Linked DNA regions of Homo sapiens. The protein of the gene in region 1 interacts with the protein of each later gene in a pairwise test. Each region holds a gene or a part of one and is shown on either strand. Other genes may lie near its edges. The genes, in order: POM121C and CHRM3.

The links.
Region 2: the proteins of POM121C (region 1) and CHRM3 interact in a two-hybrid assay, tested with the Homo sapiens proteins (one large-scale study listed by BioGRID and IntAct).

What each region holds. Positions count from the first base shown.
Region 1 is NC_000007.14:75,434,266-75,438,090, reverse strand, and holds part of POM121C (nuclear envelope pore membrane protein POM 121C), read left to right. Parts: intron 1-404; coding exon 405-576; intron 577-3,825. UniProt on the Homo sapiens protein: Essential component of the nuclear pore complex (NPC). The repeat-containing domain may be involved in anchoring components of the pore complex to the pore membrane. When overexpressed in cells induces the formation of cytoplasmic annulate lamellae (AL).
Region 2 is NC_000001.11:239,392,971-239,396,795, reverse strand, and holds part of CHRM3 (muscarinic acetylcholine receptor M3), read right to left. Parts: intron 1-3,825.

The DNA.
Region 1 (3,825 bases):
CATAACTGTACTTGTTTAAAGCATGTGACATTTTGACACGCATACACCTGTGGAACCATCCCACCACTAAGATAATGAACATCCATGACCTCCAAAAGTTCCCACATGCCTGTAATCCCTCTCTTTAGTTCCACCCGTGTCCCCAGGCATCCACTGATCTGTCTTCTGTCACTGTAGATAGGTATGCATTTTCCAGAATATTCTATAAATCATACATTTAAGTTTTAAATATTTGGCTTTTCTTACTGACTTTGTCAGATAGATTTGGCCAGATTGTTAGCAGTAAAAATTAAAAGCATTATTCTCTTCCCTTCATGTTATTAAGAAAGATGTCATGACCGTGGATGAAATCGTAAAAGAATGTTGCCTTCAATAAAGCATCTAACTGTCTTCTCTTTTATTAGGCCTGGGTCTCTGAAGAGAGGCCTCAATTCTCAGAGCTCAGATGACCACTTGAATAAGAGATCCCGAAGCTCTTCCATGAGCTCCTTGACAGGCGCTTACACAAGTGGCATCCCTAGCTCCAGCCGCAATGCCATTACCAGTTCCTACAGCTCCACTCGAGGCATCTCACAGGTACAAGTACAGCTCTTGTAATGTGGGGGGCATGAATTCCCAGCGTTCATTCATTGATTAGGGCCAGACATGGTAGCTTAGCCATGTAATCCCAGCACTTTGGAAGGCCAAAGCGGGAGGATTGCTTGAGCCCAGGAGTTCAAAACCAGCCTGGGCAATATAGTGAGACCTTGTCTGTACAAAAGAATCTTTAAAGAAATTTTTTTAAATAAAGTAATTGGTTAGCAAAAGTTTACTAATCACCTTCTATCTGTTGGACATTAGGATTGTCTCTAACTAATAGAAAATACAGATCATTGAGTGATCAATATAGGCCAGCAGAACGGAGTAGAAAGCCCGGAATGTAAAGCAGTGCATGTGTGCGAGCTGATTCGAGACAGAGCTGTGATGTAGATAAACGGACAGAGGGTGATTCGAAAGGTAGACTGAGTCCAGCTTGTATTGGGTCATAAAAGAGATTTATAGGCATTTAGAATTGAGCGCAGGGTTTTTAAACAAGTGGTCATGATTTTTTGGAAAGGGGATTATTGCATAGTATAAGGAACAGAGCAGGCTTTGCTGCTGGACAGACTTAGATTCAAATCTTGGCTCTGAGGCTGGGCGGGATGGCTCATGCCTGTAATCCCATCACTTTGGGAGATCAAGGTGGGAGAACCTCTTGAGCCCAGGAGTTCAAGACTAGCCTGTGCAACAGAGCGAGACTGTGTCTCAAAGAAAAGGAAAAAAATGCTTGGCTCTGACATCTAGTAGCTATAAGGTCTTGGGCAGACAATCACATAACATCTCTTTTTCTTATCTCTGAAGTGCTGTTGCAATGATTGAGGGTAATATTTAAAAAGCACCTATTACAGTGGCTGTCAGTAAGTGGGTATCCAGTATACAGCAGCCAGACAAAAAGATGTAAAGCATGTAAGGAGAAACGTTTTTGAGACAAGGAAAATTTTGAGATGAGTTCATCAGCCCAGAAGGCTCTGAGTCATATAAATGAACATTAATAACCATAATACCATTACCCCTCTTAAATTATTAACCTTAATATTATTTAATATCTAGTTATTATTTTTGATAAGCAAACTTTTCCAGCTTTGGACTATGGGAGCCAAACTGGCTCCTGTATCCTTTATTTTGATCCCAGCAGTCTTCGACAGATAGCTTCATTGCTTTTTGCCCACCTTCCCAAAGTCCATTTTTAGCCTATACTGAAGTTGGTTGTTTCTTCAAAAAGCTTTGGTTTCTTCCAGTTAGAACTGTAGAGACTACAGTCTAAGTTTTAGGAGAGATAAGATAGACAGATCCTCTAGAAAGAGGAATGTAAAGAATTAATTCATAATATTCCAAATTCAAATTTATGGTGGCAGGATTTTTTATGTAATCTATTTGATTTTATATTTTTATGTATTACACCAAAAATGTTGGTTTATAATTACTTTGATCCTAGTACATGCAATTTCTTTTTTTTTTTTTGAGACGGAGTCTTACTCTGTTCCCCACGCTGGAGCGCAGTGGTGCGACCTTGGCTCACTGCAATCTCTGCTTCCTGAATTCAAGCGATTCTCCTGCCTCAGCCTCCCAAGTAGCTGGGATTACAGGCTCTGGCCACCACGCCCAGCTAATTTTTGTATTTTTAGTTTGACACAAGGTTTCAACATGTTGGCCAGGCTGGCCTGGAACTCATGACCTCAGGTGATCCACCCACCTTGGCCTCCCAAAGTGCTGGGATTACAGGTGTGAGCCACCATGCCTGGCCATGCAATTTCAAAATAGCAATATCAGTGTCATTATTAACACTGTCATTATTAAGACTGCTGAAGTCAGTTTAAGAATTGTGATTCATTTGGTCTTTATATCCCTCTGTGAATCCTAGGGACATGTAATCAATATATCATGTTTTAAAGTAATGTTAATTGTCCTTTGGGTACACCAACTTTATATACAGTGAGGTTCGTTTGTTCAGTATGTTTGAAAGTTACAGGGATTTCTATGTTTTCCTTTTTGAAATAGTTCTATTTTAAATTACATAAAATACTTGTTGTTTGAAAAAAATACGCTAAAACAAGATACACTCAAAAATTCAATTTCCATCCCTTTCCACTCTACATTTTTCCTTCCTCTCCATTTTTATTATTTTTTGATTATCCTTTGTTGTTCTTTTTTAAACGGTATGCGTATCAGTGTATCTGAAAACTGCCACCTTCTAACATTTAAGGTAGTAGACAGTATATATAGATTTGAACCTTGCTTTTTCACATAATAGACAGTTGACGTCATTCCATAGCAGTACACAGAAACTCATCTTTGGTCTTACAACTGCATAGGTACTCTAGTCCTCTATTGACAAACGTTGGGTTGTTTCAGTCTTCTGCTATCACAAATAATGCTGCAAAGAATACATTTGTTCATATGTCCTTTCACCCTTGGCAGTTTTGCCTCTGGAAAAATTTCTAGAAGTCAGATTCCGGTCAAGGGTTAAATGCGCATGTGATTTTGCTGGGTATTGTTAAATCCCCCTACAGGGCATGTACCACTCAGCATTCCCCTCAGTATTGAATGAAAGGGACCATTTCTCCCTGGCCTCACCAGCAGATTTGGTTATTGTAGCTCTGGGCTTTTACCAATTTGACAGGTAAAAAATAGTATCTAGGATGGGCATGGAGGCTCACGCCTGTAATCCCAGCACTTTGAGAGTCCGAGGCAGGCAGATCACCTGAGTTCGAGACCATCCTGGCCAACATGGTGAAATCCTGTCTCTACTAAAAATATAAAAATTAGCTGGGCATGGTGGTGCACGCCTGTAATCCCAGCTACTCGGGACGCTGAGGCAGGAGAATCTCAGGAACCCAGGAGGCACAGGCTGCAGTGAGCAGAGATAGCGCCACTGCACTCCAGCCTGGGCAACATAGTGAGACTCTGTCTCAAAAAAAAAAAAAAAAAAGCTAGCTGAGCGCCACCGTGGCTCACTCTTGTAATCCCAGCACTTTGGGAAGCCAAGGCAGGTGGATCACCTGCGATCAGGAGTTTGAGACCAGCCTGACCAACATGGCAAAACCCCATCTCTACTAAAAATACAAAAAATTTAACCAGGTGTGGTGGCGTGTGCCTATAATCCCAGCTACTTAGGAGGCTGAGGCAGGAGAACTGCTCGACCCTGGAAGGCGGAGGTCAAGTGAGCCGACCTCATGCCACTGCCCTCCAGCCTGGACAACAGAGTGAGACTCCATCTTAAAAAAAAAAAAAATAGTATTTAATTTT
Region 2 (3,825 bases), on another chromosome or scaffold:
AGAAAAATATCAGAGGCAATCCTGTCGTGACATCAAACTGTTAACCATAGTTGTCTTTGGGGGCATTGGGTTATGGTGGACTTTTACTTTTGATATATATTTCCATAATGTTTGAATTTTTGTATGACATATATTACTTTTATAAGGAGACAAACAACAAAAACACTATATTTACTCTTTTCGAGACTGGATCTTGTTCTGTTGCCCAGGCTGGAGTGCAGTGGCACCATCACAGCTCACTGCAGCTTTGAACTAATGGGCTCAAGGGATCCTCCTTGCCTCAGCCTCCCATATAGCTGAGACTACAGGCAGGTGCACAATCAAATCCAGCTGATTTTTAATAATTTTTGTAGAGATTTTTTTTGCTAAGTTGCCCAGGTTGGTCTTCAACTTCTGGCCTCAAACCATCCTCCCACCTCAGCCTTCCAAAGTGAGCCACTGTGCCTGTTTACATATTTTATATGCGAATGTGCACACTGAGCATTTATGAAGAAGACTCTGCACTAGATACTTGAAAGCAGTCAAAGACCAACAAAACACAGCATCTTTCAAGGAGTTCACAGTCTGATATTTCAAACAATTTGTGGCACACACACACTAAAACCAAGAGTGAATGTAATCAGGGATAAAAGTGAGATTCTGATAGAGTAACAGAAGATGAATTCGTTTCAAGTGGTCCTTGACAAATTGCTAAAATTTGGATCCCTGATGATGTGGCACAAAGGGCATCCTATGCAGCAAGAGAACGTGGCAGAGGATGAGGATACCTGCAACAGCAAGTACCAGGGTAAAGTGAAGGGTGACCTTGAGACTTGAGACTGAACTCAACATGCAAACCCAAGCCATGAAATAGGGTGAAGCTGATGCGAGACATTTAGTCTTTATTCAACAGGCAATGGAAGGTGATGTCAAAGAAGGTGTTCAAGGGTAGGAGAAAGATGATCACATTTGGTCCTCAATAACAGTAATCTGTGTAAAATGGATCAAAGGCAATAATATGATCAATGAGATCATCTGGGAAGCTCAGAGACTAAGAAAAGATACAAAGCTAAAACATAAAGCCTTTCTTCTCAGTGTGGTCTGAGCACAGAGGAGCAGTATCTGCATCACCTGAAGGCTGGTTAGAAATGCAGATTCTCAGGCCCCAACCCAGCCCTCATGGATCAGAGTCTGCATTTTATCAAGATCCCTATGTGATCTGAATGCACATTTAAGTTGCAGAAATGATGAATTAAGATATTGGTAGCAGGAGGGGAAAGTAGCCAAGAAGGTTGAGATCTTACTTGGTTGAATCATTAGAATTCGGTACCTGGCTAAATGTAGGAGGTGAGGGAAGAGAATAAATCAAGATCACTTGATTTATTCATAACATTTGAGCTGTAGGATGGTCATGCTATTCATAGAAATAGGAACCCCAGGAGGGGAACAGGATGAGGAAGAAGGAGGGGAAGGCTGTGCTATCCAGCAAGCACATGGAAATGCTCCTTACTGAAGCCAAGTGACCCACATGGAAAGGGTATTTGAAATCGTGAAGACAGAGGCAGGTACAAAAGGAGAGGCAACGGAAGAGTATGGGAGTCAACCAGGGAGAAATTGCTGGAAAGCCCTACACTCTGCAGAAAATAGGGGTGGGGAACAGGAAGAAGAGAAAAGAACCAGAGGAGAGAAGAGAGCTAGGTAGGTATAATTCTCTGAAAATTAAGGGAGTTTAAAGGGATTGCTAAGAGATTAACCAGGACAGACAAGGAAGGGCTACCCGTTTTATGACTAAGAGGTTACAGGTGACTTTTGGAGAAGTCATTGCTATAAACCTCATGAAGGTGGATGAGAGGAGTCAAAAGATTTAAAGTCAGAGGGTAATGAGATTAGGGGAGTGTGATTGCTGTTCGGTGAGTGTAATTGAAAAGGTTAAGAAAAATCATGAAAATTTAGAAGTGGCACATAGGACCAGGTTGAAATAACTTTAAACTTCTCAACTTTAAAGATTTTCTTGTGGAAGAAAGATCAGAAGTGTTCTCATCATAATTCTCAGAATTATTAAGAAGGCAAATAAGTACAATGAGAATTAGATTTTTGGCTCAATATAAAGGGGATCTGCATCTCACTGCTCTGTGAAAATGGAATGACCCCCCTGGTGAGTGTTAATTTCTCAAACATACAGACTGCACAGTTTAACACAAGAGAGAGGTCCAAAGCCAAAAGTTGTTCATTAATGACATCTGCAGTGGTCTGAATGGCGGTCCCTCCAAAAGATGTGCCCACCTCCTAATCCCCAGGTTCTGTGATTACCTTATATGACAAAAGATGTGATGTGATGAAGTTAAAGCTCTTGAAAGGAGGAGCTTATCCTAGATTTTCTGGCTGGGACTTCACTGCAATCACACATATCCTTATAAGACAGGCATATACAGGAGGAGACAGTGAAAGAGGTGGAGGAGGCAACGTGACCACAGAAGCAGAGATTGGAATGATATGCTCACAAGTCAAGGAATGCAGATAGCTACCAGGAGCTGAAGGAAGAAAGGAAGGATTCTCCCCTAGGGTCTTTAGAGGAAGTGCAGTCTTGCCAACACCTTGATTTCAGACTTCTGGCTTCCAGAATTGTGAAAGAATAAACTTCTGTTTTAAAACCTAAGAAATTCACGCAACATCTAACATCCCCTTCCAACCCAGATTTGTTTAGTTACACTCACATTGATCATATGCTCTGAAAAGCAGAGCCCTTGACTTACTGTGTATCCAAAACAGAATGTCCATGGTACTTTGCACATTAGATGATACTGATATGAAAGATGTGATAATGGATGTATATACAACACCTATGTAAATGAACATAGGTGGATTAGATATAAAGAGATAGATAATTGATAGGTAGATAGATGGAATGATTGAGTCATTTACTCATTCTACTCAAACATGTATTTATTATATATTTACTTATATACTCTCATGAAGGTAACTTCTTTGGAGAGAATCAAAATAAATACTACCTGGGTTATCCTTGAGCATCAAATTTTATATTAAAAATGGTGAGTGCCACTAGTATTCAGAGTAGAGGGAAGTGATTTGTAGTTGTTTAGTCAGACCGATTTTCAGTTTCTAACATTCAAATGAATCAAGGGATTTAAAATAATTAGTCACAGGGAAAAACAGAATGATAGCTGCGCTCAAGGAAAGCTGGAAGAGTTTGGCTGGTCCTTGCATGATGGAAAGGATCTGGGGTGAGGAGAGAAGAAAGGAGGACTCCATATAAAGAAACATCATGGCCATTCCAGATTCCCATCACCTCTCCCTTCACACAAGCTACTGCATGTGGCATGTGTTATCGGGCATGTGAGAAAGCACAGGAAACACGGCAGGAGGATCATCACGTCTATTTCAAGTATGAGAACTTCTTTTCAATGTAAATCGTTTGAGAGACCTCCCACAACAGAAGTTGTGCTTTTAGACTATTTTGCACTAAGAAAATTGAAAAATCACAAAAAAGACTGTGTTCAATAACATTTTTAAATGACTATGGATATACATTTAAATATAGTCATCAACATATTGTCAATTTGAAGCCAAAAACCCAACAATATTTAATATTTATATGGGATCTTCTTTCTTTCTTTCTTTATTGAAGAGATGGGGGTCTTGCTATGTTGTCTAGGCTGGAGTACAGTGGCTATTCACAGGTGCAATCATAGTACATTATAACCTTGAACTCCTGGCCTCAAGTGATCTTCCTGCCTTAGCCTCCCGAGTACCTGGGACTACAGGTGTATGCCACTATGCTCAGCCAAAATTTATATGGATTGTGAGTCTACAAAATACCACTGGATT